Linked DNA regions of Homo sapiens: region 1 is linked to region 2. Evidence: fine-mapped expression QTL. A gene starts in region 2. The other region holds a variant in brackets. All regions are shown on one strand. Distances are from middle to middle. Region 1 has its middle 38 kb from the start of ATP13A3-DT. Region 2 holds the start of ATP13A3 (ATPase 13A3).

Region 1 (16,382 bases), 36 kb before region 2:
GGAAAACACTTTCCTGAAGATAGTGGCAGTTTCATGTTTGCAACCCTCCCAGACTTCACCCTACGTGTCTCTTCCTTTGTCTGGTTCTAATTTATATCCCATTGCTATAATAAAGCTGCAGTGGTACACACAGCACTTTCCTGAGTTCTGTGAGTCATTCTAGCAAAGTACCAAATCTGAGAGTGGTTTTAGGAAGCCGCAAACTCGCAGTTGGTGTCTGAAGTCAGGGCAATCTTATAGGGATTGTTCCGTCTGACTGTGTGGTTTGGGTAACTCCTTACAGATACCAAGGCAATTCACTGAGAAAATGGACTCTTTTGCACATGTCATACTGTAATTATTGATATCCATATGTAAAGAAATGAGCCTCAACCCTTACCTCATAGTATCTGCAAAAACTAACTTGAAATGAAAAGTAGACCGGAATGTAAGAACTAGAACTAGAACTTTTCTAGAATAAAATACAGAAGAACGTCTTTGTGACCCTGGGTTGGGCATATATTAATATATTAAATAGACCACAAAAAGGAAAATATGATGACTAGGTCTTCATAAAAATTTTAAAAATTTGCTCTTCAAATAATACTGTTAAGAAAATGAAAAGGCAAGTCTGGGGTAAAATATCGGCAAAATATGTATCTGTCAAAGTATTTGTATCAAGAATATAAAAAGAATTATTTGGCGGGTGTGGTACCTCATGCTTGTAATCCTAGCACTTTGGGAGGCTGAGGCAGGAGGATCACTTGGATAGTCATTCTAGCAAAGTACCAAACCTGAGGGTGGTTTCAGGAAACCCCCAAATTTGCACACTTACAAACTTGTAAAAAAATCCAATTAGAAAACGGGTAAAAGACATGAACAGACATTTCCTGAAGAAGCTATACAGATGGCAAATAAGCACATGAAAAGAGTTCAACATCATTAGCCATTAGGGAAATACAAAATAAAGCCACAGTGAAATATTATTTTGCATTTTGCATGTAGCATAATAATATTTTTTATTTTAGGCTGGGCACGGTGGCTCATGCCTGTAATCCCAGCACTTTCGGAGGCTGAGGTAGGCAGATCACCTGAGGTCAGGAGTTCGAGACCAGCCTGGCCAACATGGTGAAACCCCGTCTGTACTAGAAATACCAAAAAAAAAAAAAAAAGTTAAAAAGATATTTTTTATTTTTGCCTAGCAGAATGGCTAAAATGAAAAATAATGACAACACCAAATGCTGGCAAAGATGTAGAGAAACTGGGCCACAAAAATTGCTGGTAGGAATGTGAAATGATACAACCACTCTGGGAAAAGGTTTAGCAGTTTTTAAAAATAAAACCGTGCGGGCTGGGCGTGATGGCTCACACCTGTAATCCCAGCACTTTGGGAGGCTGAAGCGGGTGGATCACGAGGTCAGGAGATCGAGACCATCCCGGCTAACACAATGAAACCCTGTCTCTACTAAAAGTACAAAAAAATTAGCCAGGCGTGGTGGCGCGCGCCTGTAGTCCCATCTACTCGGGAGGCTGAGGTAGGAGAATTGCCTGAACCCAGGAGGCGGAGGTTGCAGTGAGCCGAGATCTCGCCACTGCACTCCAGCTTGGGTGACAGAGGGAGAATCCGTCTCAATAAATAAATAAATAAATAAATAAATAAATAAATAAAACTGCATGAAACTACCATACAACCCACAGTTGCTCTCCTGGGCATTTATCTCAGAGAAAAGAAAACTTACATTCACACCAATTGTTCATAGCGACTTTATTCATAATAGCCAAAAACCAAGTCATGGTATATGCACAGGACGGAACACTACTCAGCAATAAACAGGAGCAAGCTATTGGTGTGTGTGTGTGTGTGTGTGTGTGTGTGTATATGTAATGAATCTCATATGTAATGAATCCCTAGGGAATTAGGCTGAGTGAAAATAGCCAATCTTTACAAATTGTATATTGTATATTGTATGCTTACATTTATCTATATTACACTCTTGAAATGACAAAATTATGGAGAAGAGACTAATAGTTGCCAGGAGCTGGGGGCGGGGAAAGAGGTGAGTGTGGCTATAAAAGGGCAACACAAGGGGTCCCAGTGATGATGGAACTGCTCTGTGTCTTGACTTCATCAATGTCAACAGCCTGGTTGTGATATGTTACTATACTTTACAAGATGTTACCACTGGGGGAAGCTGGATCAAGGGATCTCTCTTTTTTTCTTTTCTTCCATAAGTAAGGAAACAATCTCTGTATTATTTCTTATAATGTGAATCTATAATTATTTCAAAATAAAAAGTTAAATTAAATAAATCTGTACACAAATGTTTATAGTGGTTTTATTCATACTCATTAAAAACTGGAATCAATCCAAATGCCCAAGAACTGGTAAATGAATATATAAAATGTAGTAAAACCTTACAGTGAAATGCTACTCAGCAATAATAAAGAATGAACCACTGATATGTAAAACACGAATGAATCTCAAAAGCTTCATGCTATGTGAAAGGAGTCAGACTCAAGACTATCTACTATATAATTCCATTTATGTGAAGTGCTAAAAAAAAGTCCAAAATCTTAGTTATAAAAAGCAGATTAGTGGTTGCCAGGAGGCAGAGGGTAGGGGTGTAGAATGACTGAAAAATGTTTCAAGGTAATTTTTTGGGGGTAATGAAAATATCCTATCAATTTCATGATTGTGGTAGTGACTATATGATGGTATATTTGTTAAAACTCATTTATTGTGCACTTAACATTGGTGAATTTTATTGCATTTAAATTGTACCTCAATAAAGTTGACCCCAAAATTGGGCTAATAAATTTAGACTATTTTGCGACTTGCTTTTTCATTTAACTATATGTTGTGGACTTCTGGCTTCCAGACAGAGAGCTTTACCTCCTTTTTAATAGTTCCATAGTCTTTCATTGTATGGATGCAGCACAATCCCACAATTAATTTAATTAATCTTTCCTTGATGAGCATTTCTGCTGTTTCCAATTTTTTATTCTTTTTTAAATTTATTTATTTTTTTTGAGACGGAGTCTCGCTCTGTCACCCAACCTAGAGTGCAGTGACATGATCTTGGCTCACCGCAACCTCTGCCTCACAGGTTCAAGTGATTCTTCTGTCTTAGCCTCCCGAGTGGCTGAGATTACAGGTGTGCGCCACCATGCCCACCTAATTTTTGTATTTTTAGTAGAGACGCGGTTTCACCATGTTGGCCAGGTTGGTTTCAAACTCCTGACCTCAGGTGATCCACCCACCTCAGCCTCTCAAAATTTTTTATTCTTACAAGTAATGTGATGGTTAACCTTTTCATGTATCTTTGTATACCAGAGAAATTGTTTTTATTGAATAGACTTCTAAAAGTGATATTTCTCGGTTTAAGGATATATGTAATTAAAATTTTTGGCCGGGTGTGGTGGCTCACGCCTGTATTCCCAGCACTCTGGGAGGCTGAGGCGGGCAGATCACCTGAGGTCAGATGTTGGAGACCAGCCTGGCCAAGATGGTGAAACCCCATCGCTACTAAAAAAATACAAAAATTAGCTGGGCATGGTGGCATGTGCCTGTAATCCCAGCTATGCAGGAGGCTGAGACAGGAGAATCGCTTGAACCTGGGAGGCAGAGGCTGCAGTGACCAAGATTGCGCCACTGCACTCCAGCCTGGGTGACAAAGCAAGACTCTGTCTCCAATAAATAAATAAATAAATAAATAAATAAATAACATTTTCGTGTGAAGCACCAAAATGCCTGACAAAATAAGGTTGTGTCAACTTGCACTGTGATCAATAGTGAATGAGTCCTGTGGCTATTTCTAAGGCATTCTTTCTAACCTTATTTACTTGTTCCTTTTCCCACAGCCTTTTCATCCAGTTGACGTTTTTCTTTTCACAGCTCTCTGTAGGATTTCTGTAGCTCCAAACCTTGACTGTTGATGCTTTGTTAGGGCCTGTAGAATGACCTCGTTATTTGAGGATCATTCGATCAAAAAGGAGCACATATGATGGTGGAGAGACAGACATGAAAAGCAATTACTATATAGCATGAAAAATGACAAGAGACTTGTATATTACATATACTGATAATAATGATGAAAGAGAAGATGATGTTGTTGCTGATAATAGCTAAAAATTATTTAGCACTTACTATATGCCAGGAAGAAGTCAAAGAACTGTATAGACATTAATTCATTTCATTCCCACAACAACCCTCGGAGGTAGAAATTATTACAATTTTCCCCATTTGGCCGAGCGCAGTGGCTCATGCCTGTAATCCCAGTACTTTGGGAGGCCAAGGCAGGCAGATCACTTGAGGTCAGGAGTTCGAGATCAGCCTGGCCAACATGGTGGAATCCTATCTCTACTAAAAATACAAAAAAATTAGCAGCGTGTGGTGGTGTGCACTTGTAATTCCAGCTGCTCGGGAGGGAGGCAGGAGAATTGCTTGAGCCCGGGGAGGCAGAGGTTGCAGTGAGCCAAAATCGTACCACTGCACTCCAGCCTGGGTGACAGAGCAAGACCGTCTCATAAAACAAACAAACAAACAAAAATTGCACCATTATACAAACCCCTTGGCTGGGCATTGAAAAATGAGTAGGAGTTAATTAGGTGAAGAAAGGGCATGGATTAGGCCACGCGGTGGCTCATGCCTTTAATCCCAGCACTTTGGGAGACCGAGGTGGGTGGATCACTTGAGGCCAGGAGTTGAAGACCAGCCTGGCCAACACGGTGAAACCCCATATCTACTAAAAATACAAAAATTAGCCAGACCTGATTGCAGATACTTGTAATCCCACAGCTACTCAGGTGGCTGAGGCACGAAGATCACTTGAACCCGGGAGGCAGAGGTTGCAGTGAGCTGTGATGGCACCATTGCACTCCATCCTGGGCAATAGAGTAAGACTCTCAAAAGAAAGAGAAGGGCGGGGGTAGGGGTGTGGAGAGAGAGGGAAGGAAGGCGGGGGGAGAGGGAAAGAATGGAAGCAAGGAAGGAAAGAAGGAAGGAAGAAAAGAACAAAAGAAGGAAAGAACAGAAGAAAGAAAGAAAAAGAAAGAAAGAAAGAGAAAGAAAGAGAAAAGAAAGAAGGAAGAAAGGAAGAGAAGGGGAGGGGAGGGGAGGGGAAGGGAGGGAAGGGAAGGAGGAAGGAAGGAAGGGCATGGATTAAATGGAATCCTAGGAAGAATGAAAAAATGAAAAATGTTTAGTGTGTACAGGCTGGGCATAATGGCTCACACCTGTAATCCCAGAACTTTGAGAGGCCGAGGTGGGTGGATCACTTGAGGTCAGGGTTCGAGACCAGCCTGGCCAACATGGTGAAACCCCATCTCTACTAAAAATACAAAAATTAGTCAGGCATGGTGGTACACACCTGTAGTCCCAGCTACTTGGGAGGCTGAGGCAGGAGAATAGCTTGAACCCAGGAGGCAGGGGTTGCAATGAGCCGAAATGGCGTCAGTGCACTTGGCCTCCAAAAAAAAAAAAAAAAGGAAGAAAAAAAACGGAAGAAAAGTGTGTACAAAGGCACACTTTGTATGATAAAACAAAGTGCATTCAGATGTCCTGTGAGTAATTTCAGATGGCTGACATCCAGAGGGAACTAGGGGACAGGAGAAGAAGAAGCTGGAGCAAGCTCATGAGTAAGTGGACGTGAATGTTTCTCATTTCCTCTTGCTAAGTGCTTTCTCACACACTACGCATTTTGCTGGCGCAATCTTACTAATTTGTACTTTCTGATGAAGTCCAGGGGAAGACTTCTCGTTAGGAAGTAATTCCCAGATTGAGATGCAAATGTTGAGAAGAGTCAACCAGACAGAAGAGGAGATGAGTGTTCCGGCAGAGGAAGCTGTGTGAGGTGTCATGGCTGCAATTTTTCTTTCTTTCTTTCTTTCTTTCTTTCTTTCTTTCTTTCTTTCTTTCTTTCTTTCTTTCTTTCTTTCTTTCTTCTTTTCTTTCTTTCTCTTTCTTTCTTTCTCTTTCTTTCTTTTTTTCTTTCTTTCTTCCTTCCTTCCTTCCTTCCTTCTTTCTTTCCTTTCTTTCTTTCTTTTTTTTTTTTTTTGAGACAGGGTCACTGCCCTGTCACCCAAGCTAGAGTGCAGTAGGGCGATCTGGGCTCACTGCAACCCCCACCTCCTGGGTTCAAGCGATTCTCCTGCCTCAGCCTCCCGAGAAGCTGGGATTACAGGCGTGCACCACCACAACTGGCTAATTTTTGTATTTTAGTAGAGATGGGGTTTCACCGTGTTGGTCAGGCTGGTCTGGAACTACTGACCTCAGGTGATCCGCCCGCTTCGGCCTCCCAAAGTGCTGGGATTACAGGTGTGATGAGCCACTGTGCTTGGCCCATGGAATTTCTAAGGAACTGGCTGGTATTGAGGATGGCTAGGTATAAAATGTAAAGGGGGAGGAGACACAAATGAGGCCAAATAGGGTGGCAAAGACCAATCCATGTAGGCCACATTAAGGAGTTCAAACATTATGGTGGTTATAAAACCAATCAATGAAAAAGAAATGACCAAATATCCCCTCTAGGCAGGCCATGCTCCGGGGGCAAAGAAGATACAATGATGCGCAATATGATCCTAGCCTTCCAGAGGGCAAAGAAGATACAATGATGCGCAATATGATCCTAGCCTTCCAGAGGGCAAAGAAGATACAATGATGTGCAATATGAGCCTAGCCTTCGAGAAGCATACAGACTAGCTGGGAAGGTAAAACATGAGCAAACATAAGGAAGGTGATCAATGGTTACTAGCCACATATAACAAGAGATAAATGTGAAATGTTGGAGTTTACAAGAGAGAAAGACAACTGGTTGGGTAAGAGGCAGGGACAGTGGTAGGGAGAAGGGACAGGAGTGGGGCCTTAAAGAATGGGTACACTAGGCCAGGCACAGTGGTTCACGCCTATAATCCCAGCACTTTGGGAGGCCGAGGCAGGTGGATCACCTGAGGTCAGGAGTTTCAGACTGGCCTGACCAACATGGAGAAACTCCATCTCTACTAAAAAAACAAAAGTTAGCCAGGCGTGGTGGTGCATGCCTGTAATCCCAGCTACTCGGGAGGCTGAGGCAGGAGAATTGTTTGAACCTGGGAGGCGGAGGTTGTGGTGAGCTGAGATCGCGCCACTGCACTCCAGCCTGGGTGACAGAGTGAGATTCCGTCTCAAAAAAAAAAAAAAAAAAAGAAAAAGAAAAAGAAAAGAAAGAGTTCTCAGTGAACACTTAGTGTTTCTCATTATTTTGCACCTCTTCTATTGAATGTAGTCATTCTCCTTTGTTAGGTCAGGAACCCATGAGAGCATCTGACTGAAAAATCACAGACCATCACCCTATCCAAAAATGCATATATGGGCCAGGGGTGGTGGCTCATGCCTGTAATCCCAACACTTTGGGAGGCCAAGGCAGGCAGATCACTTGAGGTCAGGAGTTTGAGACCAGCCTGCCAACGTGGTGAAACCCCATCTCTGCCAAAAATATAAAAAATTAGCCGGGTGTGGTGGCACACACCTGTAATCCCATCTACTCAGGAGGCTGACATAGGAGAATCGCTTGAACCTGGGAGGTGGAGGTTGCAGTGAGCTGAGATCATGCCACTGCACTCCAGCCTGGGTAGCAGAGCAAGACTCTGTCTCAAAAAAAAATGTATATAGGTACACATGTATATGTACCATTTTGCAACATCAGGATGCTGAAACTTCATAGGTGGCTGAAACTTGCAGTCTTCAGGTTGAGAATTCCTGTCCCTCTGTGTCCAGCAGACAAGTGCTACCTGAAGGCCATGA[C/A]GAATTGAGACAAAATTCTAACACTGCTACGTTATTGAGAGAAAGGATGAGAAGGTATGAAACAAATTTTAATGATGAATTTTTGTGGATTTTTGAAATGCATAAATGGGATGATTAATAATAACAAAAAAGCTCTGTTTATATCATCATAAAACACACTATAAATCTACGGGATTCAGTCTCCACTTGTATATCATCTGACACAGAGCTGAAGGTGGAGGAGAAAGGTTAACCCTTCTCATTCCCTTCCCCACCCCACATACAGTTGGCCTTTTCTGGTCAGGTTTCCGAGGCAGTAAGCATTTTTTTGAGCGCCTACAATGTGCCAGACACTGTTCTGGGCACCTGGGTAGAAAGAAAGATCTTGAAGACTCTTGCCCTGTAGGGAAGTTTATAGCTTGGGGAACAGTGGAGGAAGAACAGAAAAAAAATCACACTAATATTTAATTACTTAAAAAAATTGTTTTTTCAAGGCTGGGTGCGGTGGCTCATGCCTGTAATCCCAGCGCTTTGGGAGGCCAAGGCTGGCAGATCACCTGAGGTCAGGAGTTTGAGACCAGCCTGGCCAACGTGGTGAAACCCCGTCTCTACTAAAAATACAAAAATCAGCCGGGCATGGTCGCATGCACCTGTAATTCCAGATACTCGGGAGGCTGAGATAGGAGAATCGCTTGAACCCAGGAGGTGGAGCTTGCAGTGAGCCGAGTTTGCGCCACGTCACTCCAGCCTGGGTGACAGAGCAAGACTCTGTCTCAAAAAAAAAAAAAGTTTTTAAAACAGAGGCAGGGTCTTGCTATGTCGCCCAGACTGGTCGCCAACTCCTGGACTCGAGTGATCCTCCCGCCTTGGCCTCCCAAAGTGCTGGGATTACAGGCCTGAGCCACTGTGCCTGGTTCAAATCACACCAATAAAAGGGGTCAAAGGATGTGTTCAAATAGACTTGTGGAAAAGCTGAGGCAAAAAGAGGAGGTACTAATTTTGCCTGGAGGCAGAACTAGAAAAGAGCCCTGAAAAATGGGGAGGAGGGGCAAGATTCAGGAAGTATTCCAGGCGGGGAAGCTTCTTTTTCCCCTTTTAGCCATAGGAAGATAGAATTCCTGGGTCCCTCTTCCTGCCTCCACTAGTCTTGTCACCTGAGTTCCATACCAGCTATTTCAAAAAGAGAAAAGGCCCAAGGGTGTACAACCTTCCCTCCAGCAATAAGTAAAGGTGGTTACTATGTGCGAGGAGCTCTGCCAAGCATTGCCCAACTGTTACCTTTAATTCATACAACGGAACGGTGGTGTGTACTGTCACCATTTTCCTGAGAAAATTGGGTTTCAGAGCTAGAACTTGTCTCTTGTCACACAGTTATGGAGTGGCTAAGCCAGAACTGAAGCCGAGTCGACCTGACTTCAAAATTCACCTTCTGGCCAGGCATGGCGGCTCACACCTGTAATCCATCCCAGCACTTTGGGTGGCCTAGGCAGGGGAATCACTTGAGTCCAGGAGTTTGAGACTAGACCGGGCAACATGGCGAGACCCTGTCTCTACAAAAAAATGGAAAACTTAGCTGGGCATGGTAGCGCGAACCTGTAGTCCCAGCTATTCAGGAGTTGGGAAGATCTCTTGAGCCTGGGAGGTTGAGGCTGCAGTAAGCTGAGATGGCACCGTTGCACTGCAGCCCAGGTAGTCTGGGCACCACAGCAAGACCCTGTGTCCAAAAAAAAAGAGAGAGAAAGTCTTTATTTTGTTTGTTTAGCTTTTCTGTGGCTTCAGTCTTTAGTTTCCTTTTTGTTTATTTATTTATTTATTTATTTCACTATGGAAAATTTCTAACATAAAAGGAGACAGAATGGTATCATAAACTTCCACGATTCTATCACCTAGGTTCAATAATTAAGAATTCGGCCAGGCGCAGTGGCTCACACCTGTAATCCCTGCACTTTGGGAGGCCAAGGTGGGCAGATCACCTGAGGTCAGGAGTTCGAGACCAGCTTGGCCAACATGGTGAAACCCCGTCTCTACTAAAAACAAAAAATTAGCCAGGTGTGGTAGCACACGCCTGTAGTCCCAGCTACTTGGGAGGGTGAGGCAGGAGAATTGCTTGAGCCCGGGAGGCAGAGGTTGCAGTGAGCCGAGATCGCACCACTGCACCCCAGCCTGGGTGACAGAGCGAGATTCCATCTCAAAAAAAAAAAAAAAAAAAAAAAAGAATTCATGGCTAATCTTATTTTATGACTAATCCCTTCCTGGATTATTCTGAAGCAAATCATATCATGGCATCATTTTCACCCATAGACTTCAGTATGCCTCTTGGATCCCTTTTACTTGATAAGTTCCTCCTGCTTGTAATGTATTTGTTGAAGAAGCTGGGTCATTTATCTCATGGAATTTCTCACCATCTGAGTTTTGGCGACTGCATTCAGCAGTATCATTTAACACGTTCCCTGTCCTTGGCATTTCCTGTAAACTAGTAGTTGGATTTAGAGTAGTGACCAGACAGGTTAGTGATTTTTGGCAAGACTACTTCATGACTGTTTCTCATCGGGAGGCACTCATGTATTTGTCTTTTGACCGTCATTGATGATCAAAGTCCAGGCCTGTTAATTTACTAAAGATGGCAAAATGGTGATATTGTAATCCTTCTAGTCTTTCTCTGTTTAATAGCTGTAATACATCCAAAAAAGGTTTCCCTGATCGTCTATGCAGTTAACATAAGCTATATTTGTCACTGGAAAGGTAATATAAATGCTTCTCTCTCTTTATTTGCCAATTTTCAAAATAACAAATGGATCCCTAGCACCCACCAAAAGTGACCAATAGATTTAATTTTTAAAAAGCATGAATTCATGGTTTTAAACATTTGATGAGCTTCAATTCATCACAGTTATAATTCTTATTGATGCTCAGATTATCTTATTCTTTGGTTAGTGGGGGCCTCTTCAAGTTGACTGAGTCTGTTTTTTTGTTTTTGTTTTTGTTTTTTTTTTAAGGGAGGGGGTTACTATGTTGCCCAGTCTGGACTGGAACTCCTGGGCTCAAGCCATCCTCCAGCCTCATGCTCCTGCCTCATCCTCCTGAGTAGCTAGGACTATAGGCAACTAAGTCTTTGTGATATTTTCTTTTTTTTAAACAGGGTATCGTTCTGTCACACAGGCTGGAATGCAGTGGTGCAATCATGGCTCAAGGGACCCTCAAACTCCTGGTATCAAGCGATCCTCCTGCCTCAGGCTGCAGAGTAGCTGAGACCATAGGTGCATGTTACCATGCCTGGTTAATTTTTCAATTTTTTGTAGAAATGGGGGTCTCACTATATTTCAGACTGGTTTCAGACTCCTGGGCTCAAGCAATCTGCCCTCCTTAGCCTCCCAAAGTGCTGGGATTATAGGCATGAGCCACTGCAATAATTTTGGTGATTGCAACCAGCAGTATGATTTAACATGTTCTCTGTCCTTGACATTTCCTGTAAACTAGAAGTTGGATTTAGAGTAGTTGATCAGATTTAGGTTAGGGATTTTGGCAAGACTACTTCATGACTAATGTTTTTCATCAGGAGGCACATAATATCTGGTATTTGCCTTGTGAAATCACCCTATTGTTCTTGATAAATGCTTGATTATCAGGTGTATAATATGATGTTCCAGGCTCATCTTGTACATTTCTTTCCCAGGAGCCCAGATCTGGAATCAGCCATTTTTCTAAGGAGCCCTGCTTTCTTTTAGTAAATGGCATTTAGAGATCATATTCTGTGTGCAAGAAATGCTTGCTTTTGAATTGATGATGGTTTCTAGAAAGAATTTTTTACAAGCAAATACTTTATGGATTCTTACTAATAGTTCTATTTCAAATTTAGGTAAGACTAAAGTGTTTCTACTTAACTTTATTGATCTTATATCCATACCTGGGATGTAAAACATCCCACTTTTCAAAACAACATAATTACTCATTGCTTTATCCTATAATACATGCAAAACAGTCTTACCAACTGTATTAGTCCATTTTCATGCTGCTGATAAAGACATATGCAAGACTGGAAAGAAAAAAAGGTTTAATGAACTTACAGTCCCACATGGCTGGGACGGCCTCACAATCATTGTGGAAGGCAAGGAGGAGTAAGTCACATCTTACATGAATGGCAGCAGGCAAGAGAGACAGCTTGTACAGGGAAACTCCCACTTTTAAAACGATCAGCTCTTGTGAGACTCATTTACCATCATGAGAACCGCACAGGAAAGACCTGCCCCCATAATTCGATCACCTCCCACTGGGTTCCTCCAATGACACACAGGAGTTGTGGGAGTTACAATTCAAAATGAGATTTCGGTGGGGACACAGCCAAACCATATCATCCCGCCTCTGGCCCCTCCCAAATCTCATGTTCTCACGTTTCAAAACCAGTCATGCCTTCCCAACAGTCTCCCAAAGTCTTAACTCATTTCAGCATTAACTCAAAAGTCCACAGTCCAAAGTCTCATCTGAGACAAGGCACATTCCTTTCGCCTAGGAGCTTGTAAGATCAAAAGCAAGTTAGTTACTTCCCAGATACAATGGGGGTACAGGTATCGGGTAAATACAGCCATTCCAAATGGGAGAAATTGGCCAAAACAAAGGCGCTCTGGTCCCCATACAAATCAGAAATCCAGCAGGGCAGTTAAGTCTTAAATCTCCAAAATGATCTCCTTTGACTCCATGTCTCGCATCCGGGTCACGCTGATGCAAGAAGTGGGTTCCCATGGTCTTGGGCAGCTCAGCCCCTGTGGCTTTGCAGGGTACACCCTCCCTTCTGGCTGCTTTCATGGGCTGGTGTTGAGTGTCTGCCGATTTTCCAGGCACATGTGCAAGCTGTCGGTGGATCTACCATTCTGGGGTCTGGAGGACAGTGGCCCTCTTCTCACAGCTCCACTAGGTGGTGCCCCAGTTGGGACTCTGTGTGGGGACTCCAACTCCACATTTCCTTTCCACACTGTCCCAGCAGAGGTTCTCCATGAGGGCCCTGTCCCTGCAGCAAACTTCCTGGATATCCAGGCGTTTCCATACATCCTCTGAAATCTAGGCAGAGGTTCCCAAGCCTCAGTTCTTGACTTCTGTGCACCCACAGGTTGAATTCCACATAGAAGCTTCCAAGGCTTGAGGCTTGCACCCTCTGCAGCCACGGCCCGAGCTGTACCTTGGGCCCTTTTAATCATGGCTGGAGTAGCTGGGATGCAGGGCACCAAGTCCCTAGGCTGCACACAGCACGGAGACCCTGGGCCTGGCCCAAGAAACCATTTTTTTCCTCCTAGGCCTCTGGTCCCGTGATGGGAGGGGCTGCCATGAAGACCTCTGAAATGCCCTGGAGACATTTTCCCCATTGTCTTGGAGATTAATATTTGGGTCCCCATTTCTTATGCAAATTTCTGCAGCCAGCTTGAATTTCTCCTCAGAAAATAGAATTTTCTTTTCTATTACATTGTCAGGCTGCAAGTTTCTGAACTTTTATGCTCTGCTTCCCTTATAAAACTGAATGTGTTTAAGAACGCCCAAGTCACCTCTTGAATACTTTGTTGCTTAGACATTTCTTCCACCAGATACTCTAAATCATCTCTCTCAAGTTCAAAGTTCTGCAAATCTCTAAGGCAGGAGCAAAATGCCACCAGTCTCTTTGCTAAAACATAACAAGGGTCACCTTTGTTCCAGTTCCCAACAAGTTCCTCATCTCCATCTGAGACCACCTCAGCCTGGACCTTATTGTTCATATCACTATCAGCATTTTTGTCAAAGCCATTCAACAAGTCTCTAGGAAGTTCCAAACTTTCCCACATTTTCCTGTCTTCTTCTGAGCCCTCCAAACTGTTCCAGCCTCTGCCTGATAACCCAGTTCCAAAGTCGCTTCCACATTTTTGGGTATCTTTTCAGCAGCACCCCACTTTATTGGTACCAATTTACTGTATGAGTTTATTTTCATGCTGCTGATGAAGACATACCCGAGACTGGGAAGAAAAAGAGGTTTAATGGACTTACAGTTCCACATGGCTGGGGAGGCCTCACGATCACAGCGGAAGGCAAGGAGGAACAAGTCACATCTTACATAGATGGTGGCAGGCAAGAGAGGGAGGTTGTGCGGGGAAACCGTTTTTAAAATCATCAGATCTTGTCATTCACTATCATGGGAACAGCGCAGGAAAGACCCACACCCATAATTCAATCACCTCCCACTGGGTTCCTCTCATGACATGTGGGAATTGTGGGAGTTACAATTCAAGATGATGTCGGGGTGGGGACACAGCCAAACCATATCACCAACACGACCACATTTCTCATTTCATTACTAAAAATGGTTTCAGATATTTTACAAGGTTTTTTGGTTTGGTTGGACTGGGTTTAAGTTTGGTCATTAGGGGATCTCCCATTAGGAATATACAGTGGAATTCCTGAGTGTTAAGGTCATTTGCAATAGTTTCTCACTGTGTAGTTACACCATCAACTCAACAGATTGACTTGTTTCATTTTGTCAAGTCTAATTTGGTTTTATACTTTTCTAAAGTACTATATCCACAAACTTCCAACATAAATCTATAAAACAAGATATATTTAGAAAAGTCTAGCTTCTATCCCAATCCTCTCACTTTATTTCCTCTCTCCTCCTATGTGATGTATGGTATATTCATATTCCCCTCTCCAATGATAGCATATTATCAGAATTTTCTTCACCTGGCTTTTTACTCATTAGGTTATATTCTGGTGATCACAACATATAACATAGAAATATGCCTCATTTCCTTTCAAAGCTGCATGGCACTCCATTATGTGTAGGTATCTTAGTTTATTTACTCCGTTCCCTATTGATGGGCATTGAGTTATTTCCAGTCTTTTGCTACTACCAATGTTTCTGTAATAAATAGCCTTATGTATATTAATTTTTGAATTTTTGACTGTGTGCCGTTTTTATTTTTATTTTTTTTAGAGATAGGGTCTTCCTATGTTGCCCAGGCTGGTCTTGAGCTCCTGAGCCCAAGAGATTCTTCCACTTTAGCCTCCCAGAGTGTTAGGATCGCAGGCATGAGCGACCACATCCAGCTGAAAGTGTGTCTTTAGGATGGATTCGTAGAAGTGAGATTTCTAGGTCAAAAGGTAAATGTCTATCTAAAATTGCTGGATATTGCTGCATTGCTCAAGAAACTTATTCTGTTGTGGAAGGAATTATAATGAAGGGATTAGGAAGTGGAGGAAGAAAACTGAGACCTCCCTGAAGGGCTGACATCAACCTCCCTATAGGAAGGACCCACCTTGACAGGTGGTTTGTTCACATGCGGCTGAGAAGATTAGGGTGCTTTTCACCCTTCCCAAATCCTCACTGAAAGGAGGTGGTGCCACTCCTCACCCTGAACCTGTTGCCATGCGCTGCCTCACCAGCTCCTTAAAAGGAAGGCAGTGGTTAATGTTAAAGCAAAATGAATAAGCCTCATAAACTAAAAAGTGGAAAATAACCTAGCAACTTATTACCATCCAATTTCAGTCAGTTCACTCCCTCAGGAAAGCAAATTGCAATCAGGAGATGGTGCCATGCAACCTGCAGCAGCGCGTTTGCAGAGGACAACCCAGGGTCGAATGGGCCATCTCCCTTAGCTGGAAAGACGGCAGGCCACGTTTCTCAGCACTGTTTTTTTCAGCTTCTGATGACACTGAGGATCTCCTGGAGAGTTCCCTGGCAGCAGAGCAAGGAGTTTTGATTTCTGAGTGTTTCCCTGGAGCAAGGGCCTGCCCTGTTGGCTACAGGCACCGTCTGGTGAAGTGTAGATCTGCCAGGCTCCTTGATATGCTTGTTCCAGCAAACTGATGGCACTATCTCTGATGCCTCCACCAGATTTTGCCACTGTCTACCTTGGATGGTCACCCTGCATGGACAGGCCTGGCTTTGCATACAAGGCTATATATTGTGGGGGACTGGTCAGAGCGGTGGAAAAACTATAGGGAAAGGATGCAAACCTTCTGAAAGGTCAGAAGGTTCTGCAGAGCCTGGGGGGAGAATAGCAGAAAGCAGCTGTTCTATAACCCTGGGGCAGAGGGCAAGGAGTAGGTACAAGGGAGTGTGGGGGAATTTATCTTAAACAGGCTTGTTTACTTATGTTGACCAGGAACTGACTGTTGATCATCCGCGTGCATGATGTTGCCTGAAAAGGGAATGATAAATGTTAATTACCTGCAGGTTGTGTTGGCTCCAGGTTTTCGTCATTGTGCCTGCACTGAATAAAAGCAAGCAGCTCCAGCTCTCGGGCTGCTCTCTGGACACTAGAGCCAGGCAGTCGCCTAGCTGCTCTTACACTGCATACCTCTGTCTGAGTACTCATTTCATCTGTCAGCCAGGGTCTGCGGGACAGACCCAGCAATACATGCCCTGAAGACGGGGGTCCTGTCAGCATCACCTCTGGATCCCCAGGAATGCTGGTGCTGACACCAGGGTTTACCACCAGCTGGTAAAACTAGGGCAGCCTAAAAATGGGAACCCCTTCCAAGCCTTTTGTGAGGATTTACAGATGCAGAGCTGTGGTATGGAGCCCTTCGTAAAGTATCAAGTCAAATACAGATGCTCCTCGACTTAAGTTGGGGTTACGTCCACCGGCCATGGTGGCTCATGCCTGTAATCCCAACTATTAGGGAGGAG
Region 2 (16,382 bases):
TATGGTCTCTGTCACAACGATTCAACTCTGCTGTTGTAACAAAAAAGCAGTCAGACAATATGTAAATGAATGGGCATGGCTGTGTTCCAGTAAAACCACAAAAACAGGCAGCTAGCTTTGGTGTGGGGCCCTAAGAGCTTGGACTTTGAAGCCAGGTTCAAATCCTGGCTTTCTCACCTTCTAGCTCCGTTACCTTAAAGAACTTCATTATCTTCCTTGTATTTTAGTCTTTTCATCTCTAAATTAGTGATAGTACTTAACAGTGTTGTTATAAAGATTAAACGAGTTAAGTTTGTAAAGTACTTAAACAGTGCCTACCAGGTAGTAAGTGCTATAGCAGAGTGTGTTAGATAATGAAACATCCTGTGCTGTGGATATATTATTCCCATTACGATTTGGATTCAAATAAAGAAATACATGACTTAGAAGAAGGCTACGACTTGAACTCAGTTTCCTCATCTCTAATATTAATACAATTGCACTTTTCTTATCAGAGGAAAAATCATCACATCGAAACACAGGGAAATTCCCCATGACAGCCTAGGAGTCAGGCCTTGGCCCCTAAAGCCAAAATCTTTTTTTTTTTTTTTTTGAGATGGAGTCTCACTTTCTTGCCCAGGATGGAGTGCAGTGGTGTGATCTTGGTTCACTGCAATATCCGCCTCTGGGGTTCAAGTGATTCTCCTGCCTCAGCCTCCCGAGTAGCTGGGATTACAGGCGCCCACCCCCACGCCCAGCTAATTTTTTGTATTTTTAGTAGAGATGGGGTTTCACCACATTGGCCAGGCTGGTCTCGAACCCCTGACCTCAGGTAATCTGCCCGACTCAGCCTCCCAAAGTGCTGGGATTACAGGCATGAGCCATTGTACCTGGCCAAGCCAAAATCTTAAAGGACTACTTGTATTTCTTCTCTCCCCACCCATACATGGAATTATTATACACAGCAGTGTGCTGGGGCTGGTGTGTATTGGCTCACTAATGCTGGCTATTAAATTTTCAGGAATTTGAGCCAGGCGTGGTGGCTCACGCCTGTAATCCCAGCACTTTGGGAGCCACGGTGGGTGGATCTTGTGAGGTCAGGAGTTCGAGACTAGCCTGGCCAACATGGTAAAGCCCCAATCTCTACTAAAAATACAAAAATTAGCTGGGTGTGGTGGTGGGCACCTGTAATCCCAGTTACTCAGGAGGCTGAGGCAGGAGAATCACTTGAACCTGGGAGGCGGAGGTTGCAGTGAGCCAAGATGGTGCCATTTTACTCCAGCCTAGGCGACAAGAGCAAAACTCCATTTCAAAAACAATAAAATAAATAAGTAACCATAAAAATTTTCAGGAATTTCGTGAAGCAGTAGGGAAACTCTTGGTAGCTTGAAATTGGCTGTGGTGGGAGCATTTACACCATGAAATTGGCAGGGGCCACACAGTCAGAGTTTTCAATCTCTTAGAGAACTAGGTTATCAGCACACTGGCCCGACGCCAGCAGTAAGCACTCCTCCAGGAGGGACCCCGTGTCCTGAATAGCTAGTTGGTAAACAATATTCAGTGGCACGTGAACTGCCACATCCTAGGGCATCATGACCTCAGAAAAATGCCAAGCGCATGCTTTTGCCTCATGGCAGAGGCAAACAGTTTTTACATGCTTTGTTTAGAGACAGAAACAAGTCAGTGATGGCCATGGACTGTGATTTGTAGACATCTGACTTAACAGTCCTGCTCTCTGTTCCCATTCCAGTACACACACACACACACACTGGCCTGCATAGGTCAAGCTAAATAGGAACTGAATGGCTTAGGAGGCACTAAAAGAAAGAGAGATAGAGCTTGTTGGGCAAACATCATAATCATAATCAAAGTACTTTCTTTTCTTTTTTTGAGATGGAGTCTCCCTCTGTCGCCCAGGCTGGAGTGCAGTGGCATGATTTCGGCTCACTGCAGCCTCCACCTCCCAGGTTCAAGCAGTTCTCCTGCCTCGGTCTCCCAAGTAGCTGGGATTACAGGCGCCTGCCATCATGCCTGGCTAATTTTTGTATGTTTAGTAGAGACAGGGTTTCGCCATGTTGGCCAGGCTGGTCTCAAACTCCCAACCTCAGGTGATCCACCTGCCTCAGCCTCCCAAAGTGCTGGAATTACAGGCATGAGCCACTGCGCACAGCCTCAAAGTACTTTTAATGGACAGTTTTTCTAGGAAAGGCAATGAGTGCTGTGTTTGTTTTGTTTGCTTGTTTTGCCATTTTTTAATGGCAAAAGGTCTTCATAATCTAAACATGTGACCTCTAACCTTTTGTGGAGGCAGCAGAGGGAATACAAACAAGGGCTGAACTCAGTCAGAGATTCTTAGATAAGACACTCCCTCTTGTGAAGTTGTGAATCTCATTTTTCTTCTCTATAAAAGGAGAATCAAAACAATTCCATTGCTAGTCTGACATCGTGGTTGTGAAAATCAATGTTAACTTGTTCTCCACTTACTCAGCATACTTTCTGACTACCGCTGTGTGCTGTGAGGGGCTGAGGATCCAGATGTGGCTGAGGAAGGTCCTGGCTCATGAGGAGGTGGAAGTCTGGGTGCTTAAACAGATAATCCAGAGTTTTGATGCGAGATGAACTCATTCTGGTGAATCACTCTGGCTTCATTTGGTTATAGTGGTCAAGAGTTTGGCCCTGGAGCAAAGTGTCTGGGTTTGAATCCTGGCTGTGCTTTCGGGTGAGTTATTGAACACCTCTTTTTCCATTCTGTAAAATGGGATTTTTAAGCTTTCCTCAATTTGTAAGCAGAAATAATCTTCCTCAATTTGTAAGCAGAAATAAGCTTTCCTCAATCTGTAAACAGAAATAATAGTACCTCCTTCCTAGAATTGTTATAAAGGTTAATGAGATCATATATGTAAAGTTTCTTCGTCTATGAAAATGAACAGAATAGTCACTACTACTTTTAGTGTTGGCATCGTTGTGATGATTAAATGAGATAACATATGAAAGTATTCAGAACCTTAGGAAAAAAACATGAATAAGGTAGACTCATGGAAAACAAAAACACTAAATAGGTGCTTATTCAAGGTTGTAAATGCAGTGAGACAAATATGCACTAAAGAGGGATTCTTTTTGTTTTGTTTTTTGAGATGGAGTCTTGCCAGGCTGGAGTGCAGTGGCGTGATCTCAGCTCACTGCAAACCTCCACCTCCGGGTTCATGCGATTCTCCCACCTCAGCCTCCTGAGTAGCTGGGATTATAGGTGCCTGACATCACACCTGGCTAATTTTTGTATTTTTGGTAGAGACGGGGTTTCATTATGTTGGCCAGGCTGGTCTCGAACTCCTGACCTCAAGTGATCCACCTGCCTCGGCCTCCCAAAGTGTTGGGATTACAGGGGTGAGCCGTGCGCTCAGCTAAAGAGGGATTCTTAGCCTGGGAGTCAGGGAAGGCATTTAGAGATGATATCTGAGATCGTAAATTCATTCATTCAGTCATCCATCAGGTGCAAACATTTGAGTGTCTATCACATGCCAGGCTTCATCTAGTGCTGGGTCTACAGTGATAAGCCAAACTGACTTATTCTTTACCAGTAGCAGCACAAAGAGATGGTTTGGGTGGGGATGGGGGATTTTTTTTTTTTTTTTTAAGAGCTGAGATCTCACTATGTTGCCCAGGCTGGAGTGCAGTGGCACAATCATAGCTCACCATAAACTCAAACTCCTGCGCTTAGGCAATCCTAGAAATCCTCCCACCTCAGCCTCCCAAGTAGCTGGGACTACAGGCACCTGCCACTGTGCCCGGGTGAGAAGGATATTTTATGTGCCTGTTTCCCATAATCCCAAAAGTCCTTCTCACATTTACAAAAATAAACAACCATTATTTTTTCAATCTTACATAAGTGTCATACAACCACAGCCTTGAGATAAATACAATAACAACACAATAAAAATACTATACATAAAAATATGTTTGCATAGAATTTACATCGTATTATAAGTAATCTAGAGATGATTTAAAGTATAGATCACGGGTTGTGGTGGCTCATGCCTGTAATCCCAGCACTTTTGGAGGCTGAAGCAGGTGGATCACCTGAGGTCAGGAGTTCAAGACCAGCCTGGCCAACATGGTGAAACCCTGTCTCTACTAAAAATACAAAAAATTAGCTGGGCCTGGTGGCGGATGCCTGTAATCCCAGCTACTTGGGAGGCTGAGGCAGGAGAATTGCTTGAACCCAGGAGGCGGAGGTTGCACTAAGCCAAGATCATGCCATTGTACTCCTGGGTGACCCAACGAGACTCTGTCTCAAAAAAAAAAAAAAAAGTACACAGGAGGATGTATATAGGTTATATGCAAATACTATACCCTTTTATCCAAGAAACTTGAGTATTTTTGGATTTTGGTATCCACAGAGGTTCTGAAACCAATTCCCTGTAGATATCGAGGGACAACTGTATATGCATTTAAGCCCAAAGTTGAACTTATAAGTTAGTCAGGCAAGAAAAAAAGGGAAGGGAAAGAATAGATTGTACAAAGACCGTGAGTCAGGAAAGAGGTTGGTGCGTTTGAGGAATTGAAAGAAGGCCTAGTGTAGCTGGAGTAACTTGGGGAAGGGGTCTGCGGTGAGAAGACGGGGAGAGCAGAGGAGTGCCAGTGGAGGGGGAAGTGGTGGGCAGGTTACATCCTGCACTGGACTTTGTGGACCCAAGAAGTTCATCTAGTATTCCAAGTGAGGTGGGAAGCAAGTGAAAGCTTTTATCAGCAGCTCTGCTTGAAGTCACATAAACTAATACTCTGGCTGCTGTGTGATAATGCACTGGAGGTGGGCAAGGGCAAAAGCAGAGGAACCCACTGGGAGCGAATGCACTAGTGCCAGGTGAGAGATGAGGGGGCATGCCAGGTGAGAGATGGAGGAGGCATGCCAGGTGAGAGATGAGGGGACATGCCAGGTGAGAGATGAGGGGGCATGCCAGGTGAGAGATGAGGGGGCATGCCAGGTGAGAGATGGAGGGGACATGCCAGGTCAGAGATGGAGGGGGCATGCCAGGTGAGAGATGGAGGGGACATGCCAGGTGAGAGATGAGGAGGCATGCCAGGTGAGAGATGAGGGGGCATGCCAGGTGAGAGATGGAGGGGACATGCCAGGTCAGAGATGGAGGGGGCATGCCAGGTGAGAGATGGAGGGGACATGCCAGGTGAGAGATGAGGAGGCATGCCAGGTGAGAGATGAGGGGGCATGCCAGGTGAGAGTGGAGGGGACATGCCAGGTGAGAGATGGAGGGGGCGTGCGAGGTGAGAGATGAGGGGGCATGCATTATTCTAGTGGCAGTGAAATGGAGCAATGGGGAAGGATTTGAAATGGACTTGGTGTTGGATTGGATGGGGTGGTGAAGGAGAGGGAGGTGTAAAGAATGACTCCCAGGTTTTGGGCTTCAGCAGTTGTTTGGGTGACAGCGTCTTTGCTAAGGTCAGGAGGCCCAGGAGAGAGGAGCTGATTTGGGGAAGAAAGGCAAGAGTTAAGTTTGGGATAAGTGAACTTATCTGGCACCAGTGAAACCCCATGTGAAAATGATAGGGAGGAATGGCCAAGGGACTCTGAGGAGTGGCCTGGGCTGCAGGCATATGGTTGACATTCTTTTTGAGATAGAGTCTTGCTCTGTCATCCAGGCTGGAGTACAATGGTGCCATCTCAGCTCACTGCAGCCTCTGCCTCCTGGGTTCAAGTGATTCTCCTGCCTCAGCCTCCCAAGTAGCTGGGATTACAGGCGCACGCCACCACGTCTGGCTAATTTATGTATGTTTAGTGGATGGGGTTTCACCATGTTGGCCAGGCTGATCTCAAACTCCCAACCTCAGGTGATCCGCCCGCCTCGGCCTCCCAAATTGCTGGGATTAAAGGCGTGAGCCACCATGCCCAGCCTCAGTTTACAGTTATTAATGTACATGCAGATGACAGCTATAGCCATAGTAGATGAGGCCACCAGGGGAGAGCATGTGGATCAGTCCTCTTATCTTTTTTGGGGGACCCAGACACCTTTGAGAAGCTGCTAAAAGCTCCACTTCTTCCTTTAAAAGTATTTGCATCCAAGTTTAAGGAGCTTATAGATCCTTCTGAAGCCCATCCACAACTCTTGTAAGGTCAAGAGATGTCAAATTAAAAACAAACAAACAAACAAAAACACAACAAACCTTGTGTAGACACAGGAATGGATCCTGGGTTGAGCCTTGGGGAACAGCAACATTTAGAGAAGGACAGAGGAAGCACCTGCGGAGGCTGAGATGGAGTAGACAAAGAGAAACAGGGAGGAGGAATTCCAAAATAGAGTATGTTATCAAAACTAACAGCAAAGTGTCTCAAGGATAGGAGATGCATGCTGCTGAGAGAACTAGAAAGATAAGGCCTGCAAAGTGTCCTCCGGATTTGGCAACAGTAATATTTTGGGGAGGCCTAGCCCCTGGAGTTGGCCTAACAGTGGTCATTTTGTGGAGAGCTAGCTCTGTTAGGAGGAGGCTTTGCCTCTCTGGAGTGGGAAAATAGATCCTGGGGCCGATGTAGGATGATGCGCAGATTTGCGGGTGGGAAGATGAGGATTTTTCCTCTTGATGGTGTATGTTTTCTTAGTGAAATAGGAAGTAAGGGGACAGTGAGAGGGAAGGGCATGCAAAGATGGGGGTTTTGAGGATGAAGAAGATGCAAAATAGCCTTTCTGAGAAGTGACGTCAGACCTTACTGGTATGACTGTTACCTCCATGCAGCTGCAATCAGGGTTGGTGCTTACAGTGAGTAGGATCAGAGGGGGGAAGCAGTGGGCTTGGACCCAGAATCATCATGACTTGAGAACCAGTAAGTCTTCCAGGACTTCTCCAGACTGTTCCACTCCCTTTCTCTCGCCTATCTTGGGTTTCTCCTTTTTTCTTGCACCTTCTTTTCCCTCAACCCATAAACATGCTCAAGCCTTTCCTGGTGACTCAGCACTTCCTCTAAAGCCAGTGTCCAAATTCCTTTTTTCACCATTCTCAAAACATCTGTAACAGAAAAGTTTTTGGAATATCCAACTGCTTTTCTCTTTTTCCTATAGCTTTCCCTTGACTGGCTGTATGTTGCCTTACTTTGGCTGCACCTCGAATTCTGGGGCTCTTTGTGATCTTTTAAAAGCCCGAACGCGTTGACAGGTTCATGCTGGGTAGCTTGGAGGTATACACTGCAGCCAGAAGCCTAGGGAAACTCTTAGGATTTTAAATGGAGTGCATTGTAGTTCACTCTGAAGGCTGAATTTGTCTAACAATTCAGGCTGGAAAGGATGGATGCCAGTGGGAACCACCGTAGGAATTTTTTTTTTTAGATGGAGTTTTGCTCTTCTTGGCCAGAGTGGAGTGCAATGGCGCAATCTCAGCCCACTGCAACCTCCATCTCCCAGGTTCAAGCGATTCTCCTGCCTCAGCCTCCCAAGTAGCTGGGATTACAGGCATGTGCCACCACGTCCAGCTAATTTTGTATTTTTAGTAGAGATGAGGTTTCACCATGTTGTCAGGCTGGTCTTGAACTCCTGACCTCGTGTGATCCACCAGCCTCGGCCTCCCAAAGTGCTGGGATTACAGGCATGAGCCACTGCGCCCAGCCCACCATAGGAATTTGAGGCTTATTAAGGAGGTGAAATAGATAGGACTTGGTGATTGGGTAAGGCAGAGGGCTGAATTAAGAATGACTCACTCATTCCCAACTTTCTAATTCTGATGACTGTGGAGATGGTGGTGCCAACAGCTGAGGGAGGGGCAGCTATGAAAGCAGAGAATGAGTTCAGTTTTGGAAATGTCCAGTTTGGGGTGTCTGTGATATCTAGCTAGAGCTGCCTGGCAGGCAATTGGATATTTGGTTCTAAATTTTGTGGAAGGGGTCTGGGTTGGAAATTGCTAATTTGGGAGCTGCATCCATGAGGATGCAGGCAATCCCAGAAGAATGAGTGAAGTGAGCAAAGTTGTTGGCTTAGAGTGGAATCCTGAATTTAAGGTGCAGATTCACAAGTAGATGTTACCAAGGAGGCAGAGGCTTTACTTACCTTCATGTGATAATCCAGAGGGTTCACTCTTCTGAAACCAAGGTAGTAGAGAGATTCCAGAAGGTGAGAGTCATCCCAAGGTGTCAAATGTAGCAGAAAGAACCAGAGAGATAAGGCCTGAGGAATGCCTGCAAGGTTTGGCAAAATGAAAGTCATGAGTTGCTCTTGCCTGAGCAAGGTGAAGGGTTAGAGTTGGGGAGGAGAAGCCAGAATGCCAAGTGTTGAGAAATGAGGAAGCAGAGGCAGCCAGGGAAGACCATTGTTTGAGGTCCGCATGAAACACTTGGAAGCTAGTTGGAGGGAGCACTTCAGGAGGAGGTTGGCTTGATAATTTTGTTTTTAGGACTTGGAGAGGCCAACCTGTTTAAAGGCTGAGAGGAAGCAGCAAGGCAAGGAAGCCTGGGAGGTGGGGGAGGAAGATTTTAGGGCCAGACCCCACCCAGACCGTTTTCTTGTGGTTTGCCCAACACTACCACACACCCCTTAATCTCATTTAATCATTTCAACACCACGAGGTTTGAAACAAACGGTGAGGTATGAAACAAAACGGTGAGGCCAGGGATTGGGAAGAGAAAGCTGTGGTTCCATCTCGGTCCAGCGTGCTGTCCACGCCAAGAGGCGGGCAGAAATGCTAGCCTCACACAATCTAGGGGACCAGGGGTGGCTGTGGCGCCCTCCTGCCCGCAGGAGGTGTTATCAGTGTCGCGGACTCGGGCGGTGTGCTGCCCCTGGTGAGATGTCATCACGTGCGTGGACCAGGGGTGGCGGCCCTGGTAAGTGTCCAGGGACTAAGGGCTCCCTGCTCTCCAGGTGTGGTGGACGGGGTCCGCATGCATGCCGTCCTCTTCTCTAAGACGCTAAGGCGGCTGAGTTCTGTAAGTAGCGGCAAGAAGAACAGTCACGGAGCGGGCCGGGCACAAAGGGCGCAGGCCAGGTGGCCCCAGGCGGAAAGATGGCCGCAGCCAGAGGCTGCAGGTGGCCGGGCGCGCTCCCTGCGCGCGTCGCGGAGAGGACGCAGCGAAAATCAAACCCGCGATTTGGAAATCCGGCTGCGGCCCTACCCCGAGATAAGTCTTCTGCGGAGGGAAGTATTTAATTTGCATCCAGGACGGTCGGAAGAGGCGCCTTCCCGTCGGAGGCGAGGCGCGGGCGCGTGGGAGCTTTCTCGTGTGCGCTCCTCCCTGTCCTCCGCCTGCGGCCGGGGCGCAGAGTCCGTGGTCATATGAGAATGACAGTTTTTTGTCTGTTTGTTTTGGCGGGGGCGAGGGTGGCTAAAGGAATGAAAGAGCCTTGCATTAGGAGCTGGGCTCTGGTTTCCTCTCCACCATTCTAGCACAAGCTTCCTCCATGACCATGACTCTGGGCAACGTCTGTCTAGTCACTGAGCCTCAGTTTCCCTGTTCATAAAATGGGAGATTGGACTATGATGTTGTCATAGCCCAAAGGGGATGAAGTGGGATTTGCCGTTCCATTTCATCCCACCAGAAAAGCCGCCCTCCATTAGCCACCCCGGGCTGACACCCAGCGTTTTTGGACGGCCTCGCCTCCCCTTACCTGCCTCTTTCTTTCTTTTGCCCGTTCGAGGGTGGCAAAGGCGATGGGTGGGCGGGGCCTATAAATCGCCCCGCCCCTCCCCGCCCCTTCCCCGCCTCCTGACGTCGCCCGCGCCCCTCCGCCCTCCGCGCGGGGATGAAGCCACCACGTGACCTCACATCCGGCGCGGGAGTCCTGAGCCCGCGCGCGCTCCCCCGCCTGCCTGCCGGCTCTCCCCGCAGCGTGATCGGGCGCCGCCGCGGAGGGGAGGGGGGTTCTCTACGTCGCTGGCGGCGGGGGGGCCGTTTCGGAGTGCAGACCGCCCCCCTCCCCTGCCCACCTCCCGCCGCCCTCCCTTGTTCTCGCCCTGCCGGCTGCACGCCGCCGCCGCGGGCGCGGAGGAGGAGGAGAGCGCGGACGTCCCAGGGCCGGCCCGGCCCCGCCGCGGCGCCTCCTTCCCTCACCCTGAGCCGCAGCGCGCGGCGCCGGCCGAGGGCGATGGGGCTGGGCTGAGGCGAGGCGGCGGCGGCGACAGCGGCGGCCGGGTCCCCCGCGGTCCCTGGGGCTGGTCCGGCCGCGAGGGAGGCCGCGGAGGAGGCGGCGCGGCGGCGGCCAGTGAGCGGCCCCGGTGAGCGGGGCGAGGGGCGGGTGGGCAGCGGCGCCGGGGGAGGTCGAGGAGGCGAATGGTGGTGTCGGGGCGGCGGGTACCGGGCGAGGTCGCGGCCAGCCTTCTCGGGCCGGAGTTGGGCATCGCGGGGACGGGGAGTGTCGGGGGCAGGTGAGGCCAGGGCAGGAGCCCACGCGGTGGGTGCGAAGGCCTGGGGGGGACGCGCCGCCTGCCGGGGGCGAGCGTGGGGGCCGGGCGCTTGGTGGTTGGTAGTCAGAGCTTTCGGAAAGTCCTGTGGGAGGTGGAGGTCCTGTGGGCAGAGGCGTAGGGGTGCTGGCAGGGCCCTCGATGAGTCTGTGCGGGACCCTAGCTCGTCCTCAGCCGTGGAGTATGGAGCTGCTTGCCATCTCCGCATTTCACAGATAAAAGGAGTGAGTCCCGTGGAGGAAAAGTGACTTCTGACTTGCCTGAGGCCTCCCACTCGGACTCTGTGGCAGTGAGGACTAGAAAAACCCAGGGCCCTTTGCCCTAGCAGTGCTCTCGTGGCCACTCTCGCTATGGCCTTTCTGTCTCTCCATTCCCTTCACAGAGTCAGGTTCTGGTGGAAGTATGACCTCTGGCTTTTTTGGGGAGGTGAGGGGTAGGGATGAAGGGGGAGGGAATCGGGTTGGGATTGGCAGGAACTCAGCTGGGGGCTTCCCGGTGTGGAAGAAGCTTTGTGACAGGTGTTTATTGTTTCCTCTTCCCATAGATCTGACAGACATCCCTGAATCTTGGTGTTTGGACATAGGAGGTATGAATCACTCACATAATTAGCCGCTTTTAATCATCAGTGTCTTAGAGCTATATTTAGTGGTTATATTAGTGCAAAATGAATGGGTGTGGAGTCGTACACCTAGAAACAGACTTGTGTTCCTCTATACGATTCTAACTAAATGAGTAGAACATACCTGGGTATGTCATGGCTACTTTAGATCTATGAGGCAGGAAGTTAGAATTTAAGGAATCTAAGAAATGCAGGGACTTGAAAGATTATTGCAAAATAAAGCCTTTAAAAAGTATCGTTGTTAAAATGAAAGTGTTTCGATTTGATTCCTTTGAAGGGTGAGTACGTAATGAACAGTGCTCTATCTTTGGTTAGAGCTCAGCCTCTTTACCAAGGTACATGTATTAATTTTGTTTCACTGGAATATATGTGACATTATTTTCTCTAGAGGTTTGTTGCTTTGCTTAATAGACTACAGTTGCCAAAAATCAATGTGTGTGGGCATCTCATCCTGGTTTGCAACCCCTTTAAGGCAAATCAGTGCTTGGAAGTTGTTCGAAGTAGTAAACCTATTATTAATGATTGTTGTAGAACATAACTTTTGCTGGTATCTTTGATTTGCATTATCCTACCATTAGATCAGGCAGAGAGTGAAATAATTGAGATTTTGAGCCTTGTTAGAACAACAATGCCTGGCTTTGGTCAGGGGATTGGGTAGGAAAAGTGACACTATTTGGTTGCTTTAAATTTTTTTTTTTTTTTTTGAGATGGCATCTTGCTCTGTTGCCCAGGCTGGAGTGCAGTGGTGTGAACTCGGCTCACTGTAACTTCTGCCTCCTGGGTTTCAGCGATTCTCCTGTCGCAGCCTCCTAAGTAGCTGGGATTTCAGGTGTGTGCCACCACGCCCAGCTAATTTTTTGTATTTTTAGTAGAGACAGGGTTTCACCACGTTGGCCAGGCTGGTCGTGAACTACTGACTTCAGGTGATCTTCCTGCCTAGGCCTCCCAAAGTGCTGGTATTACAGGCGCTAGCCACCGAGCTTGGCGGTTGATACTTACATAGTTAGTTTAGGTCACCAAATATACAACACACAGAATCCGCTTTGGATAAACCACATTATCGAGCTCATTTTGAAATCCTATTTCTGTCTTCAAGATTTTCGAGATTATAAACCACTTTGTTGTCATTCACAAGTATAAAGTTCTTATTTCCAACATCACTGAGACTGAGAAAAAAGACAGAATAAAGATAAAGTTCCATAGGGCGTCCCCATCACTGCTTATTCTCACTGAGTTTGACCATTGAGTAGGTTGTATATCCATAGTAATATGATATAGTGCCTATGTCCTAAGATTACTATTTATCTTAGGAATAAAGCATATTCATATTCTAAAACCTCATATTCACAGTAGTTACAAAACCACCACGTTATACAAGCATAGTTTGATTCAATATATGGAATGGAAGAAGGAAAGAAACCATTATGTGCCAGGAAAAGTGCTCCTTTCTTTACATATGGTCTCAACTAATCCTCAACACTTTCAGGTAACAATATTCTTCTTTGTTAAAAAAAAAATTAAAGAAGTTAAGGAGCTTACAGTATAAGCGACTTTGAAGACAGACAGAAACCTAGCTCTGTGTTAATGTGCTTAACACAGAGGTTTCTGTCTCTGGGTTTATAAGGTTAGTTGTATGTGACTAGGCAACATAACATCTCTGAACCTCAGATTCTGGTGATAAATCAGATATGTCATCTTAATAGGTGTCACACACTAGATCACCTTCTTTTAGCACACAACTGTGAACTGTTTTGACTGTTTTCTTTGATAGGTGATAAGCTGCCAACTCCTATTCCATTTATCATCCATTCAAATATAGCTCAGTTTAACTCTTAGATATGTTGTACTCATCCTTTTCTCCCTTCTCTCTCCCTCCTTAGAATCACATTTCTTATTTTTTAAAGTTTTAAAAACATTTTTTAATACTGCTTCTTGCAGAACAGGGCTGCTCGATAGGCAGTGTGCCTGGAGTAGCCAGAAGAAATTAGAAATTAAATTTCTTCTTGGTGTTACCTCTGAATGTATTCTGAATATGCCATATCTCATCTGGATCCAAGAGGTAGCTGATGGGATTTAGCCTTGGTTTTGGAACATAGTTTTTGTGAAAATGAAGCTAATTGGCCTATGGAGAGAGTAAATCTGTAGTCGTCAAAACCATGTTGAGTTTTTTTGAGATAGGGTCTTGCTCTGTCTCCCAGGCTGGAGTGCAGTGGCTCTGTCATGGCTCACTGCAGCCTTGACCTTCTGGGCTCAAGCAGTCCTCCCACCTCAGCTTCCAGAGTAGCTGGGACCACAGGTGTGCACCATCACACCCAGCTAGTTTTTTTTTTTTTTGTAGAGGTGGGTTTTCACCGTGTTGCCCAGGCTGGTCTCAAACTCCTGAACTGAAGCAGTCTGCCTGCCTTGGCCTCCCAAAGTGTTAGGGTTACAGGCATTTATCACTGCACCCCGTCCTTTTTTCTTTTTTTTTCCCCCCAGAGAAAGAGTCTCGCTCTCTCACTCAGGCTAGAGTGTAGTGGCACGATCATGGCTCACTGCAGCCTTGAGTTCCTGGGCTCAGGCGACCTTCCTGCCTCAGCAACAAGGGTAGTTGGGACAACGGGTGTGTGCCATCATGTCTGGCTAATTTAAAAAAAAATTTTTTTTTTTTTTTTGAGACGGAGTCTTGTACTGTCATCCTGGCTGGAGTGCAGAGGCGCGATCTCCGCTCACTGCAACTTCCGCCTCCTGGGTTCAAGCGATTCTCCTGCCTCAGCTTTCCGAGTAGCTGGGATTACAGGTGCCCACCACCATGCCTGGCTAATTTTTTGTATCTTTAGTAGAGACTGGGTTTCACCATGTTGACCAGTCTGATCTTGAACTCCTGACCTTGTGATCCGCCTGCCTCGGCCTTCCAGACTGCTGGGATTACAGGCGTGAGCCACCACGCCCGGCCTTTAAAATTTTTTTGTAGAGATGAGTATCTCGGTTTGTTGCCCAGGCTTGTCTCAGAACTCCTGGCCTCAAGTGATCCTCCTGCCTCAGCCTCCCAAAGTGTAGGAATTACAGACATGAGCCACCTTGCCCAGCCAAAACCATGTTCTAATTAACCACTTAAGTTCAAATAGCATGCAAGAAGCAAGGAAATTGTTAGGTTCTCGTTTGAGTTTTGTTGAACATCATATTTTGAGAGTAGAGAAGTAAGAGAGGCTCAGATTTCTGGCACATAATTTTAATTAAGATTTAGGTTTAAAAAAATGAAAAAGTTCTGGGCTCAAATTAATCTGGAGAAAAGTAGATATTTGTAAGGTAGAAGAAGGTCCACAGTTAATCAGTTATCACTAGATAACTAGTGATTATAAAAGGAGTTAAAACGATTTGTGTTAGTAGGTTATGCACAGTGACTCATGCTTGAAATCCCAGTGCTTTGGGAGGCCAAGGCAGGAGGATGGCTTGAGGCCAGGAGTTTGAGACCAGCCTGAGTGACAAAGCAAGACTTTGTCTTAAAACAACCAAAAATAATTTGTATTAATCAGGTTAAAAATAGAGGTAAAATGAGATGACATGAGTAAATGGTAATTGGAAAAAATGATCACTGTTATGATAGTTTAAAAAATGACTTTATGGTAATCAGTAAGAAGGGAGAAAAACGGAATAAAGGAGAGAACTGTCCAAATAAGTGTCTGACACTGAGGAAGGTTGTTTGAGGATGGTGATTGCTGAAAAGTTTCCATAAAATGATTCTCTAGAGGGAACTATGCCAATACCATATCTGTTAACATCTTAGACCCACAGGGTCATATTGGAACCTTTGCTAGAGTCTGAGATGGTAAAACATTAACTCGAATAGTAAACGTCAAGACCGCAAAATTAATCTGTTAATCAGAATTTTGTCTTTTTTGTTGATTCTTACACTTACTCCCTGTGGATCTTGGTTTTAAATGATCAATTGACACTCAGAGACTAGTTAGATAAGAAATTAAATTTCCAGAAAAAGTCACTTAAGTATGTAAAGTAGAATTTCCTAATTATGTGGTCTGGAAATTGCTGATGTCTACAGAATCTTTCTCAAGTTTGAAGTAAAAATACTTGTAACTGATGTTGGGTGGTAAGGTGAAAGATGGTTCTAGCTCAGTGAGTTTTTCTTATTTTTTTTTCACAAAGGAGTTGAACATTGAAATAAAGAGGTGTGAGACTGGAAAATAATGCGGAGAGATCATGGATTATTTAGATTAGTGCCTTTTTAGAGAAGAGGAAAGTGAAGTAAGTGACAGCATAAAGGATCCTTTATGGTCTAACCCCAGATCCTTTCTCTAGCTTGGGTGTTCCTTTCACCCTTGCTTTAATTTTGTACTCTGTAGTAATGGCACATCTCAAAACTTTTGCATTTTTTTTTTCCAGTGAGAGCCAACTTTTAAGGGTTGCCTTTGCTTGCTTGACAGACTTCTTGAAACAAACTATTTTTAGTTTGTTTAAAATGAGTCATGGAATTGCTCCCACATATGTGTCTAAGGGTGGTTTCTTCATAGCATCCCTGTTGCTCTGTTTTTTTTTTTTTCCATTTGTGAAATAGGATGAAATATATTTTAGTTATTTATTTTGATATAAAAGACAAGTGTTTTGGGTCCTGATTTTTTTCTGATTGATCTAAAGAGCTGAATAAAGTGCAATCACTGCTCATGGGGCCTTTGGGCCTAAATTCTCAGATAAAAATCCTGTGTAGTCAAAATTACCCTTGGAAAAAGTCTTTTAAAAAGGCACCAGTTTGAAAACTGGTTGGAAACTGACATTCTGTCTTTCAATTCTAGTGTCCAGTTTTTCCTGTAGTTTTAGAGAGGTCCCTTTTTTGGTGAGCTGGAATCCTCACCAGCTGTGTGAGACCGTTTTGACAGGTGAATGGGTCTTAGATTGACTGAGCATAGCGGATTTATAGTCTTCATTTCATGCTCACTCTGGGACAGGGATGTAAAGGAAGGCATACTATCATCATTATTCAAATTATTTTTCTCTGTTGCTTCCCCCCAGAGTGTAAGTAGTTGAATTGGTTTTAATTAAGTGCATATATGATGTGACTCCACAGTGTGAATAATGGAGAAATAACTTAGGTATTTATGAACATCTGCTATCTCCGTAAGGTTATGCCACAAAAAGATCTAGTATAATTAAAAGGCTAGGTAATAAAGTTGAGAATATTAGGAGATTATTGGTACTGTCTGTCATTCTGAGGGGATACTCAACTACTTTGAGTGTTTTTGTTTTGTTTTTTTAAAGAATAAATTTATTCCTTACTGCTAGCAAGATCTGCATTGTTTTAAAAGAGCGATGTAAATTATTAATGGATTCCATGAAATTTAAAGTATCTAAACTTAAGTATTACTCTGGGGATAGCACAGTAAGAAAACATGAGTATGTAAAA

The links.
Region 1: its variant is fine-mapped to the expression of ATP13A3 in whole blood (INTERVAL, PIP 0.98).

Annotation. Positions count from the first base shown.
Region 1 is chr3:194,516,580-194,532,961 of GRCh38, reverse strand. No RefSeq gene overlaps it. Among named protein-coding and RNA genes, the nearest start is that of ATP13A3-DT, 38 kb to the right of the region's middle. RefSeq lists an enhancer at 11,888-12,182. The variant C/A (reference allele first, on the strand shown) is at 7,760.
Region 2 is chr3:194,480,366-194,496,747 of GRCh38, reverse strand. ATP13A3 (ATPase 13A3) reads left to right here and starts at 9,746. Exons shown (of 34, transcript NM_001367549.1): 1 at 9,746-10,182; 2 at 10,913-10,954. It overlaps ATP13A3-DT (ATP13A3 divergent transcript), which reads right to left and starts at 9,608. Exons shown (of 2, transcript NR_033929.1): 1 at 9,576-9,608; 2 at 8,203-9,292. RefSeq lists enhancers at 4,463-4,512, 4,553-4,602, 4,613-4,722, 6,474-6,593, 8,727-8,946 and silencers at 9,617-10,276, 10,307-10,356, 10,447-10,506.